2 separate regions of the Homo sapiens genome follow, and region 1 is linked to region 2. Evidence: fine-mapped expression QTL. A gene starts in region 2. The other region holds a variant in brackets. All regions are shown on one strand. Distances are between the middles of the regions.

Region 1 (5,377 bases), 130 kb after region 2:
GGTTCTCTTCTATATTGACTTTATGTCTCAGAATGTCAAATGCTCACAGCTGATCTAGCTCAAAAAACAACATAGCTTCTACAACTCGGTAGAAACTGGGACCACAGCCAACTTGACTTGACACGTCTTTCCCAAGAAATGAACACAAGAAATTGCTGCCTCTAAGCTACCAGAAACTGAGCTGGGAATTTTTTTCTGATATAAAGATCTACACAACTGGTTTCAAAATTTTTTTAATTCTTTGAATCTTATTCACCTGAAAATCTGTCTCGTGGACTCTGGGGTCACAAAAACCCAGTTCCCAGCCCAGGTCAATCACTTACTAGATGTGAGCTTAGACAAGGTAATTAACCTTAAACAATAGTTTTAGTTTATCATAAATTAGAGATAATAATATCCATATCCTAAGGTGGTTGTGAGGATTAAGTTAGAAAATATGCTGTGTCTAGTGCAGGAGGAACTCACGGAGATTCCTCTTGTTTAAGCTGTTTATCCTTGCAATGGAGAATGGTCAGTATATAATTAAACATACATTGCTATTACGTTCACAGTGAGGATGTGGAGGGGTAAAATGATTTACAAAGGGTTTTGATTTTGAGTAACTTAAAAAGATTTATAGTCCTTGAATATAGTTCCCACCAATACTTCTTAGGGCAGGTATTAAGAGTAACTGTTACTGTTACTGGAGTGCTCAGTGTGTCAGGCACTATTTGAAGCATTTCATATTTATTAACTCATTTAATTTATACAACAACATCATGTCATTGGATTACCATTATCCCCCATTGTAAAAATTAGGAAACTATAGCAAATAAAGTTTCTGTATTTGCCCAAGGCCACACAGCTGGTAACTGACAGAGCTGGAATTTAAACCCTTACATGTCGGTTCTAGGGCCTTCACTCTTTTTTTTTTTTTTTTTTTTTTTTGAGGCAGAGTCTTACTCCGTCGCTCAGGCCAGAGTGCAGTGGCGCGATCTCAGCTCACTGCAACCTCCACCTCCCAGGTTCAAGCATTCAAGCAGTTCTCCTGCCTCAGCCTACCAAGTAGCTGGGACCACAGACACCCGCCATCATGCCCAACTAATTTTTGTATTTTTAGTAGAGACAGGTTTTCGCCATGCTGGCCAGGCTGGTCTCGAACTCCTGACCTCAGGTGATTCGCCCACCTCAGCCTCCCAAAGTGCTGGGATTACGGGAGTGAGCCACCATACCCAGCCCTGGGGCCTTCACTCTTAACCATACTTTCCACATAGCAGAGAAGCACGAATCCACACATTCCCCAGCGAGCTGCTCCATCCCTTCCGTCCTCATATGCAAAGCTGTTCCACTTGGGATTTGGAGTAACAAATTAAAATTCCAGTTTTGTGTGTATTTTGTGGGTCCTCAAACATAGATTTGAATGATTTTCAAGTTTTAAATTGTGTTTAGCAGTAATTTATGTGAATATGCATTACCTGGAGGCAGAGACCATGTCTTCTTCAATATGACTCCATGCACCTATTGTTCCCTGTAAGCTGTTCCATGTGCACGTGAACAAACCAACCACAACTGCCCATGCACACACCTCTAATACTAAATACTGAGCAATGCTTCTCAGCTCCATCTGCTCACTACACTGGCATGTATGGCTTAAAGAAGATGTTATCAACTGGGATCAAAGAGTGGCTTTGGAGGAGAGGGAAGTCAGTCTTTCTCCCCCATTTGCTGGAATAGATTGAAATGGTTTATGTCCAGGACCTGAAGAAATTTTGATAGAGAACTGGTCTCCCTGCAAGCTGGCCCTGGCCCTCCCAGAGGATCACCAAGATGGTATAAAAGAGACTCTTCTGAGTAGGGTCTTAGTCCCCACCAAGTGTCCTGGAGGACAGTGAACAAGGCCAACCTCAGGCAAAGCTCTCAAGTAAGCCAGGTGCCTCTCTGGCACCCCCTCACTTTACTTTCTGTGCCCGAAAATTCTCACCAGGAATACAGTATCCGAAGTGTGGAAAGCTTCCGATACTGCAGCTTACCCCATGCCTCCAGAGCCATCCTCAGCTCAATCTCTTTTCTGTTTCCTCAATTAAATCTCCCAGTCTTCAATGTTCAGGCCATTGCTGATCAAGGTAATAATCTCTAATACAATTTCTTACAACTTCCCACTAAGAAACCCATTTGAGCTTCTTAAAATTTAGAAGTTTCAATAGCATTAGAAATCCTGTCAACCACTTGACAGGGCATACATGAAAGGGTCATAAATGCAAAGTGGACCCCAAATGCCAAAGGAGCCAAGACACCAAAGAATGAGGCAGACAAATTCAGTCTGTTGATATAAAGTGATTTATTGGGGGCTGGGTATGGTGGCTCATGCCTGTAATCCAGCACTTTGGGAGGCCGAGGTGGGCAGATCACTTGAGGTCAGGAGTTTGAGACCAGCATGGCCAACATGGGGAAACCCCATCTCTATAAAGATAAAAAAATTAGCCGGGCATGATGGCATGTGCCTGTAGTCCCAGCTACTCAGAAGGCTGAAGCAGGAGAATTGCTTGAACCTAGGAGGCGGAGGTGGCAGTGAGCTGAGATCGCACCACTGCTCTCCAGCCTGGGTGATGAAGTGAGACTCTGTCTCAAAAAATAAAAATAAAATAAATTGATTTATTGGGGGGAACTTACAAACAGAAGCTTGGTCTTAGGCAGCTGGCTACAAGACAGGTAAATCTCTGCACTGCAATCGCCCAGACCCAGGATGTGTATCTTGAGGAAAAAGTATCTATACTCTGGAAGGAATATGTAGGTGGCTATAAGCATCACAGCCTATGATTTCTACAACATTATCAAGGGTTGTTTTGAGGGAAACTTACAATGAATAACTGTTCCTACATAAACAGTAATACATCACCTAGACATTTTGGAGGCATTCCCAGACTTGGGGTTAGTCAGCAGATTAGCATTTAAAATAAAGTCACTTATGTCCCTACTAGTGCCTAAAAAGCATTTAGATCAATGTCAGCATAAAGGAGACTGGACTGC[A/G]AAACAGAACTGTGTGCAAAGGGAATTTGTTGAAATAAACAGGCTGCACCCTCTGGGACAGAGAAGCATGGTCACCTGGGAAGGAGAGAAAAGGGAGCTTGGGTCACTCCAGTATCAGCAGCCAGCTCAGAAATGTAGACCTGCACAAAATAATACCCAGGCAGCTATGAGAATATCTGTTGCAGCCAAGAGGGCACCCTGCCTTCTCTTTTCATATCCAGTGAAGACTGTCCCTCTCCGTGACACCATGGCTGGAGGAAGTGGATACACCGTGCCTGCTGCATCTGAGGGCTGAAATGCAAGATCTTCAAAGGTCAGCCATGTTCAGGGCATTTTGCTCACATTCTTGAGGACAAAAATTATGCTTCTCGGTGTAGCAGAACAAAAGAGGGGAGTTGAGAGTAAAATGGCTAGAAGGATGGGAATTTTTAAGTTCCAGCCATTGCTGCATTGAGAACACCAGAAGGGTGTTTTCAGAAAAAAAACTGCTTATTTTCTTCTCCCTGCCTGCTTTTGTTTTTAAAATGTTTTAATGGAACCTCTGATTATGCAAAAGGAAAACTCCAGCCCAGCTCAGCAGAGATGACTGAGATAATGTGGAACTAAATTTTTCTGTGCAGTAATTCATCTTTGTGCAGATAGCATCTGGCAATGGAGGCTGGTTGTTTTCTTCTTTCTTTTTCTTTTTTTTTTGAGACAGAGTCTCGCTCTGTCGCCCAGGCTGGAGTGCAGTGGCGCAATCTTGGCTCATTGCAACCTCTGCCTCCCAGGTTCAAGTGATTCTGGTACCTCAACCTCCTGAGCAACTGGGATTATAGGTGCCCACCACCACACTCAGCTCATTTTTTTGTATTTTTAGTAGAGACGGGGTTTCACCATGTTGGTCAGGCTGGTCTTGAACTCCTGGGCTCAAGCGAGCCACTCGCCTCTGCCTCCCAAAGTGCTTGGATTACAGGCGTGAGCCACTGCACCCGGCCTGGTTGGTTTCATTTTAAGGTACTCCTTTTTGCTCCTGCCAAGCTCAGAGATTGCAGTTGGAGTTCTCAAGACAAGAGGACATGGTAAAAGCCATTCTGCTCCAAAACAATGGTCAGCAGAAACATGGAAGCAGAGTAAGACCCAAGGAAAGAAACAGCCAGTAATGAATTCCCTTGGACAGTGTTTGTCTAATGGACTTTGGGTGCAAGGATGTCTGATATCCAATTTTAAGGCATTTCCTGCTCTGTGAGATTATTCTCTTCCCTTACCTCCCTCCTTGCCAAGTTTTTGAAAAGGCTTCTTTAATTTATATAGACCAATGTCAGTCTTTTTTTAATTTTATTTATTAATTTATTTATTTTTAGATGGAATCTGGCTCTGTCACCCAGGCTGGAGTACAGTGGTGCGATCTCGGCTCACCTGCAACCTCCGCCTCCTGGGTTCAAGCGATTCTTCCGCCTCAGCCTCCTGAGTAGTTGGAACTACAGGTGTGCACCACCACGCCCGGCTAATTTTTGTATTTTTAGTAGACACGGGGTTTCCCCATGTTGGCCAGGCTGGTCTCGAACTCCTGACCTCATGATCTGCCAGCCTTAGCCTCCCAAAGTGCTGGGATTACAGGCATGAGCCACTGCGCCCAGCCTAAACCAGTGTCAGTCTTAAGTGAAAAGTGCTTGTATGATTGAGACTAAGTGATTTGGGGATTGGTGAGTAAGCCAATATGGGCAGAGTTGATTGTGAATAAACCAATGCCCAAACAACACATTTCCTCTAATATTTCTCCTACTCAAAGAGTTATATGCCCAACTTTATCCTAAGGGCCTTTGTGAAAGTAGAGGTAATGACTCATCTGGTAACTTAATTTCCTAGTGGGTCATCATTTCAAGGGCCCCCAAGACCACCCTCATGTTTAGTGATTTGCTAGAAGGATTCAAAGGACTCAGAAGTAAATGTATTCACAGTTACAGTTTCTTGCAGCGAGAGGACACAAAGCAAAACCAGCAAAAGCAAAATCAGATACAAAGCAAAATCAGCTACAAAGCAAAATCAGCACATGGGGCAAAGCCCAAAGGAAACCAGACATAAGCTTCCAGGGTCCTCCCAGTAAAATGGCACAGGATGCACTTAACAGAGCCTACGGTTTTTATTGGGGACTGGTCATAGAAACCCTCTGCCTAGCACATATAAAATTTCAGACTTCCAGCAGGACAGTGGTATTCAGCATAAACCATATTGTTTGTACAAACAGTCTAGGCACAGTAAACCATCCTTATCAATTACGGAATGGTAGGAAGACTCCTGAAAGCCAAGTTCCCAGATGCTAGCCGTGGGTCAACCTTGCAAGTAGGCCTTTCTGAGGTCTGCTGTCTCAGGGCTGCTATGTTAGCTCTTT
Region 2 (5,377 bases):
CTTTCTATATTGACTATATTATAAACCTGTGTTGTTCTTTTTGCGAACCCAACACTGCATTACACCATGAGACATCCTCTAAAATTCTTCTTTACTTTGAACTAAGCATAAACTTTCTGCTAATAAGATCTCTTAGATGATATACTATTATAAGCAGAGTTCAAACTCATACAAAGTGTAACAGCTGCTCACCTTGCTGGTCCAAGATATTGTGACTTGTGGTCAAATGCATACAAAAGCCATAAAAGGACACTCCTTTCTAATATTTTCTCAATAATTAACTTTCATTACAATTCAATTAATACTATATTGAATATAATTATTAGTAATTTCTCTTGGGACCTATAAATTAAGTGTATCCTGCAAGTGCAGCTAATGTCCCAACCATACCTGAAGAAATTTTATCTATGTCTGTAAACAGAGTGCATATACCTTTGGATGCTCTGGTCTCAACTAGTTGAAAGCCAGCTTAAAAATAAATCACGTCACATTTATGATTAACATGGCTTTAAATAACAATGGGGACTTTATTCCCCCACACAATGATCAACTACTGTTCTCACTGCAACTAAAGATGTTGAAAAGATAACCTAGTTTATTGGACAATTTCTACAAGGGCAGTGTAATAAAATGTCCATTTTTTTTCTGGACAATAAAGTACTTTTAAATTATCAACATAGCTGCATATAATCAAGTTATCTCCTGTCTGGAAGGTGGAAAATTGGAATATTTCTAGAACTTGCAAAGAGTTTTTGTCCTTTACTTCATGAATCATTCAGCAAAAGCCGGCTATGTACTATTTCAAATGTTACTACCTCAGAATGTCACTTGACTCAAAGATTTTCCTTTCCTTTTCTTCTTCCTCCCTCCCTTTCTTCCCTTCCTTCCGCCTTTCCTTTCCCCCCCCCTTCCTTCCTCCCTCTCTCCCTCTTTCCCTTCTTCCCTCCCTCCCTCCCTCCTTGTACAGGGACTAACACTAGAATCACCGCCTCACCATGCCCCTCGTTGGAAGAAACAGAAAGGCACACGATGCTGTAAGCTATGGCAGATGCCCAGGGCACGTGGGGTTGAATAATGCTGTTTGGAGTGAAACACTGAGACTCCGCAGTCACACAGTGATTCATTTACAGAGCTTTACTAAACTACGGGCACTCAGAAATAGACAAACTGTTCTTGCCTCAACCGAACCAAAGGCCCAGCGGGCCTCGAAAAAGCTCAGCCAGGTGCTTTGGGAGGCCGCGAGGAGGAAGAAGGATCCGTGGAAGGAAGCACGTTCACACCACGGCACTGAGGCCTCTGGGCCGAGCTATAATTTAAAGCATGAAACGAAGGGGTCATAGATTCTGACTAATGCTGACCATTTCCATCGGTTACCCAGTTGAATCTCATGTCGACACTAGGAAATCGACTTTATACATGCTCTTTAGGAAACGAGGGACGCAGGATGAAAGAAGCCAAGAGTGTCGCCAGGGCTTGCGCCAGCGCCGTCAGACTCCCGGGATGGGGGAGCTCCAGGGCACGGCGTCAGCGGATTCACGGAGAAGGAGAAAAGCCCCACTGCCGTGCAGAAGCCTAGGCCCGGGTGAGACGCCTGCGAAGGCTGCCAGCAGCGGAAGAGAAGGGGCGTCCTCCGTGCTGCGCAGCACTCGCCCGCGGTAGGTGGGCGCGGAGCTCAGAGCTGGGAGCCAAACGCAAACGCTGGCGAGAAGCCCCAGCCCCCTCCGGCAGCCCACTCGCTGCGGGGAGGGGTTTCTCACGCCCCCAGCTCCTGGGAGACTGCACCGGAGGTCGGAAGTAAGCCGGGCGAGGATGAATCATCCCGCCTAACTCCTCCTTCCCGGTCCCCTAGCCTCCGCACGCCGGCCCCCTTCAGAGATCTTGCAGCCGCGAGCGAAGACTGCCCTATCCTCAGACTCTACCGAACCCCCTGTGGCCTGCGGAGACGAGGAGACGGACGGGTCTGGTGGCCAATGAGAGCTTCGATCTCTTGCCCCCCGCCCAATGGGCCGCTGCTCATGGGCCGGGGCGGGACTAGGAGGGCAGGTAGGGGCGGTCCGGGCTGGCGCGCGGCGCGGCGGCTACGCGGCTGCGGCTCACAGAGCTAGCGCCTCTCTGGGTGTCCGTGCCAGTGCTGCGCGGGAAGGCACCACCACCACAGCCGCCGCCGCTGGCCAGGGTGCTGGACAAGACGGGCCCGTCGGCCACCTCGCCAGCTCAGGCACCCGCTGCAGCCGTCGCTGTCTCCTCCCAGACCGGTCCCCATGGAGGAGATGGAAGAGGAGTTGAAATGCCCCGTGTGCGGCTCCTTCTATCGGGAGCCCATCATCCTGCCCTGCTCTCACAATTTGTGTCAGGCGTGCGCCCGCAACATCCTGGTGCAGACCCCAGAGTCTGAATCCCCCCAGAGCCATCGGGCCGCGGGCTCCGGGGTCTCCGACTATGACTATCTGGACCTGGACAAGATGAGCCTATACAGCGAGGCGGACAGCGGCTATGGCTCCTACGGGGGGTTCGCCAGCGCCCCCACTACCCCGTGCCAGAAGTCCCCCAACGGCGTCCGCGTGTTTCCCCCGGCTATGCCGCCACCGGCCACCCACTTGTCACCGGCCCTGGCCCCGGTGCCCCGCAACTCCTGTATCACCTGCCCCCAGTGTCACCGCAGCCTCATCCTGGATGACCGGGGGCTCCGCGGCTTCCCCAAGAATCGCGTACTGGAAGGGGTAATTGACCGCTACCAGCAGAGCAAAGCCGCGGCCCTCAAGTGCCAGCTCTGCGAGAAGGCGCCCAAGGAAGCCACCGTCATGTGCGAACAGTGCGATGTCTTCTACTGCGATCCGTGCCGCCTGCGCTGCCACCCGCCCCGGGGGCCCCTAGCCAAGCACCGCCTGGTGCCCCCGGCCCAGGGTCGTGTGAGCCGGAGGCTGAGCCCACGCAAGGTCTCCACCTGCACAGACCACGAGCTGGAGAACCACAGCATGTACTGCGTGCAATGCAAGATGCCCGTGTGCTACCAGTGCTTGGAGGAGGGCAAACACTCCAGCCACGAAGTCAAGGCTCTGGGGGCCATGTGGAAACTACATAAGGTGAGTCCTAAGAAAACCCACTCCTAACTCCCTGCGTCTCCGATCATCCGGTTTTGCAGCAGACGGTCCCCGTCTCTTGCGCACAGCGCATCCCAGTGGGGGCGCAATGCAGGTGCCTTCGATGTTTACCTCCCTGGTCTGGTGCATTGCAGGAGGCATGGGGGAATCTTAACCGGCGCACGGGGGAGTTGAATGCCCCCACAGAGTTGTTGCGGGGATGCCTTAGAGCGGGTCTCTCGGGGCGCGCTGCCTGCGAGCGGGACTCAGGGCGCCCCCTTTCCGCGGCGGGTCTGCAGCCAGTGGCCGCGGCCAGTGTGTGGGAAAGCACTGCATAGCTGGGTAGAGCCGCGCCAGTGCCCAGGGCCGCTAGGCACGCTCGAGGGCAGGGCGGGCTGCGAACCCTCGGGGAGGGACTGGGATGGGGGCGGTGGGGTCGCGCGGACGGCGGGAGTCTGTCGCTGCTGGATAGGCGGACCTGGTGAGGCACGGCGGAGGGTCGGGGAGACGCCGCAGGCGGAATACTGATGAGCCCGGCTCTGGGCCAGACCTGGCTCTCGAGCTGGAGAGAACGCGGGGTCCTGGTGCCACGTGCTCAAAAGACAGAGCGGAGAGGGCAGCCAGCGGTCGCCATGGCAACGCGACGTGCAGGCTTGGGCCTGAACCCTTCCGGAGTTGGGACCTGAGACTAGAGTGTCAGGACCGGAGTTTGCGCAGTCGCGGCCTGGAAGCCAGACAGGTGCATCTCCTAGGGAAACCTTCTCCTCCCAACTATACACACACCCACTTCTCCGGAATTCAAGCCCTTTCCTCTTTCAGTAGTTATATGTGCAAACTTTGGGACACCTGTTACCAGATTTATCTTTCCAGTCTCTTTTGATGATATTTCCACCATGGCTAGACACGAAGAGGCTTTAGCAACATATTCTGTCGTGCCACTCCTCTGCTCAAAACCCTCCAATTTTTCCCACGCTTCTCAGCCTGTCCTACATGACCTCTTCCATTTTGGCCCCTTCGACCTCATTGCCTCCCACTTACTCCCTCTGCTCCAGCCACACTGCTTCTTACTGTTCCTCAAACGACGCCAGGCACCTCCCTACTCCAGGGCCTTTGCATTTGGTGTTCATTCAGCCTGAAGCTCTCTTCCCCAGTTACCTGAGATCCGAATGGGTCACTTACCTGCATCCTTCAGCTCTTTGCTCAGGTATCATCTTTGCAGCGCCACCCACCCAGACACCCGCTAGTTCCCTCTCAGCTTTATTTTCCTCAGTAGTATTTATCCCTGTGTGGCATGCTATATATTTTAATTATGTTATTTTTTGTATTTATCTATTGCTCCCTGTACACACACAGACATAAACGAAATAAGCCTCATGAGGAAGAAGATCCTTATAATATGCCCACACTGCTTAGAAGGAAGGGAGCAACTCTTGAGGAGATGTGCATGAATTTGCTTTTCATTTTTTAAATGATCCATTTAGTTGGGGCTGTGGAGTGCAGGGCAGGGATTCAGGATGGTTGGAAGGAGCTTTTCTTTACATCACTGAGTTGCATACCCAAGGATGAGATGGAGCAGTGAAGATAGTGTCCAGGCCTCAGCTGTGGCCTTGCTCAGAGTCTCCCAGAATTCCTTGGAGACTAGAAAGGGTAGCTTTTGCAAGTGGCCAACTGTGGAGTTAAGGCTGGAACATTGATATTTTGTTTACAGCAAGAAAAAAATGTCATTAATTTTCAGCAATCAGTGAAAGTTTTCTCAACTCCTTAACCCGGTTGAATGTGATCCATGTTTACAGTCATTCTATTCTCACATATAACCTATTAAATCATATTAGTACTGATGGGGATTTCATTTAGCACAAATTGAAGCCTAACTGGGCACACACCACTGTTTTCAGAACAGTCGAATTTAAATTTTTGAAAATGACATTTAATTTTGAAAGTTTTCAAAACTTGAGTTCACAGCTAGTTTTTTATTCATATTTTGATTTCACTTTTAAACTGCTAATTATAGTCCATGTTGAATTGCCCTACAAAGTATCCTTGGAACTAAAAAATTAATCACTCTGTCAGGAAAAAGAATTTAGAGCCACAAGGTAATTAGGATGGGTAAACCACAACATTATTATTTTTTTTATGACAAGCCTATCCTTGATCTATTAAGACCAAAAGAAACCTTTAAATCTCTGTCAAGCCCCATGTCAATTTGAAATGTTAAATCATTTGTTTTATTGGCAATAGAAATTATGAGTAGACAGACACTGGTGCTGCCTGGGTTGAGATTTAGATATCTACCTGCC

The links.
Region 1: its variant is fine-mapped to the expression of TRIM9 in whole blood (TOPMed, PIP 0.95).

Annotation. Positions count from the first base shown.
Region 1 is chr14:50,959,588-50,964,964 of GRCh38, reverse strand. It overlaps LOC400212 (a long non-coding RNA gene), which reads left to right and starts at 2,638. Exons shown (of 4, transcript NR_170195.1): 1 at 2,638-3,319. RefSeq lists a silencer at 2,760-3,054. The variant A/G (reference allele first, on the strand shown) is at 3,007.
Region 2 is chr14:51,091,824-51,097,200 of GRCh38, reverse strand. It overlaps TRIM9 (tripartite motif containing 9), which reads left to right and starts at 2,096. Exons shown (of 13, transcript NM_001387360.1): 1 at 2,096-3,083. The coding sequence starts at 2,262. RefSeq lists a silencer at 2,035-2,104.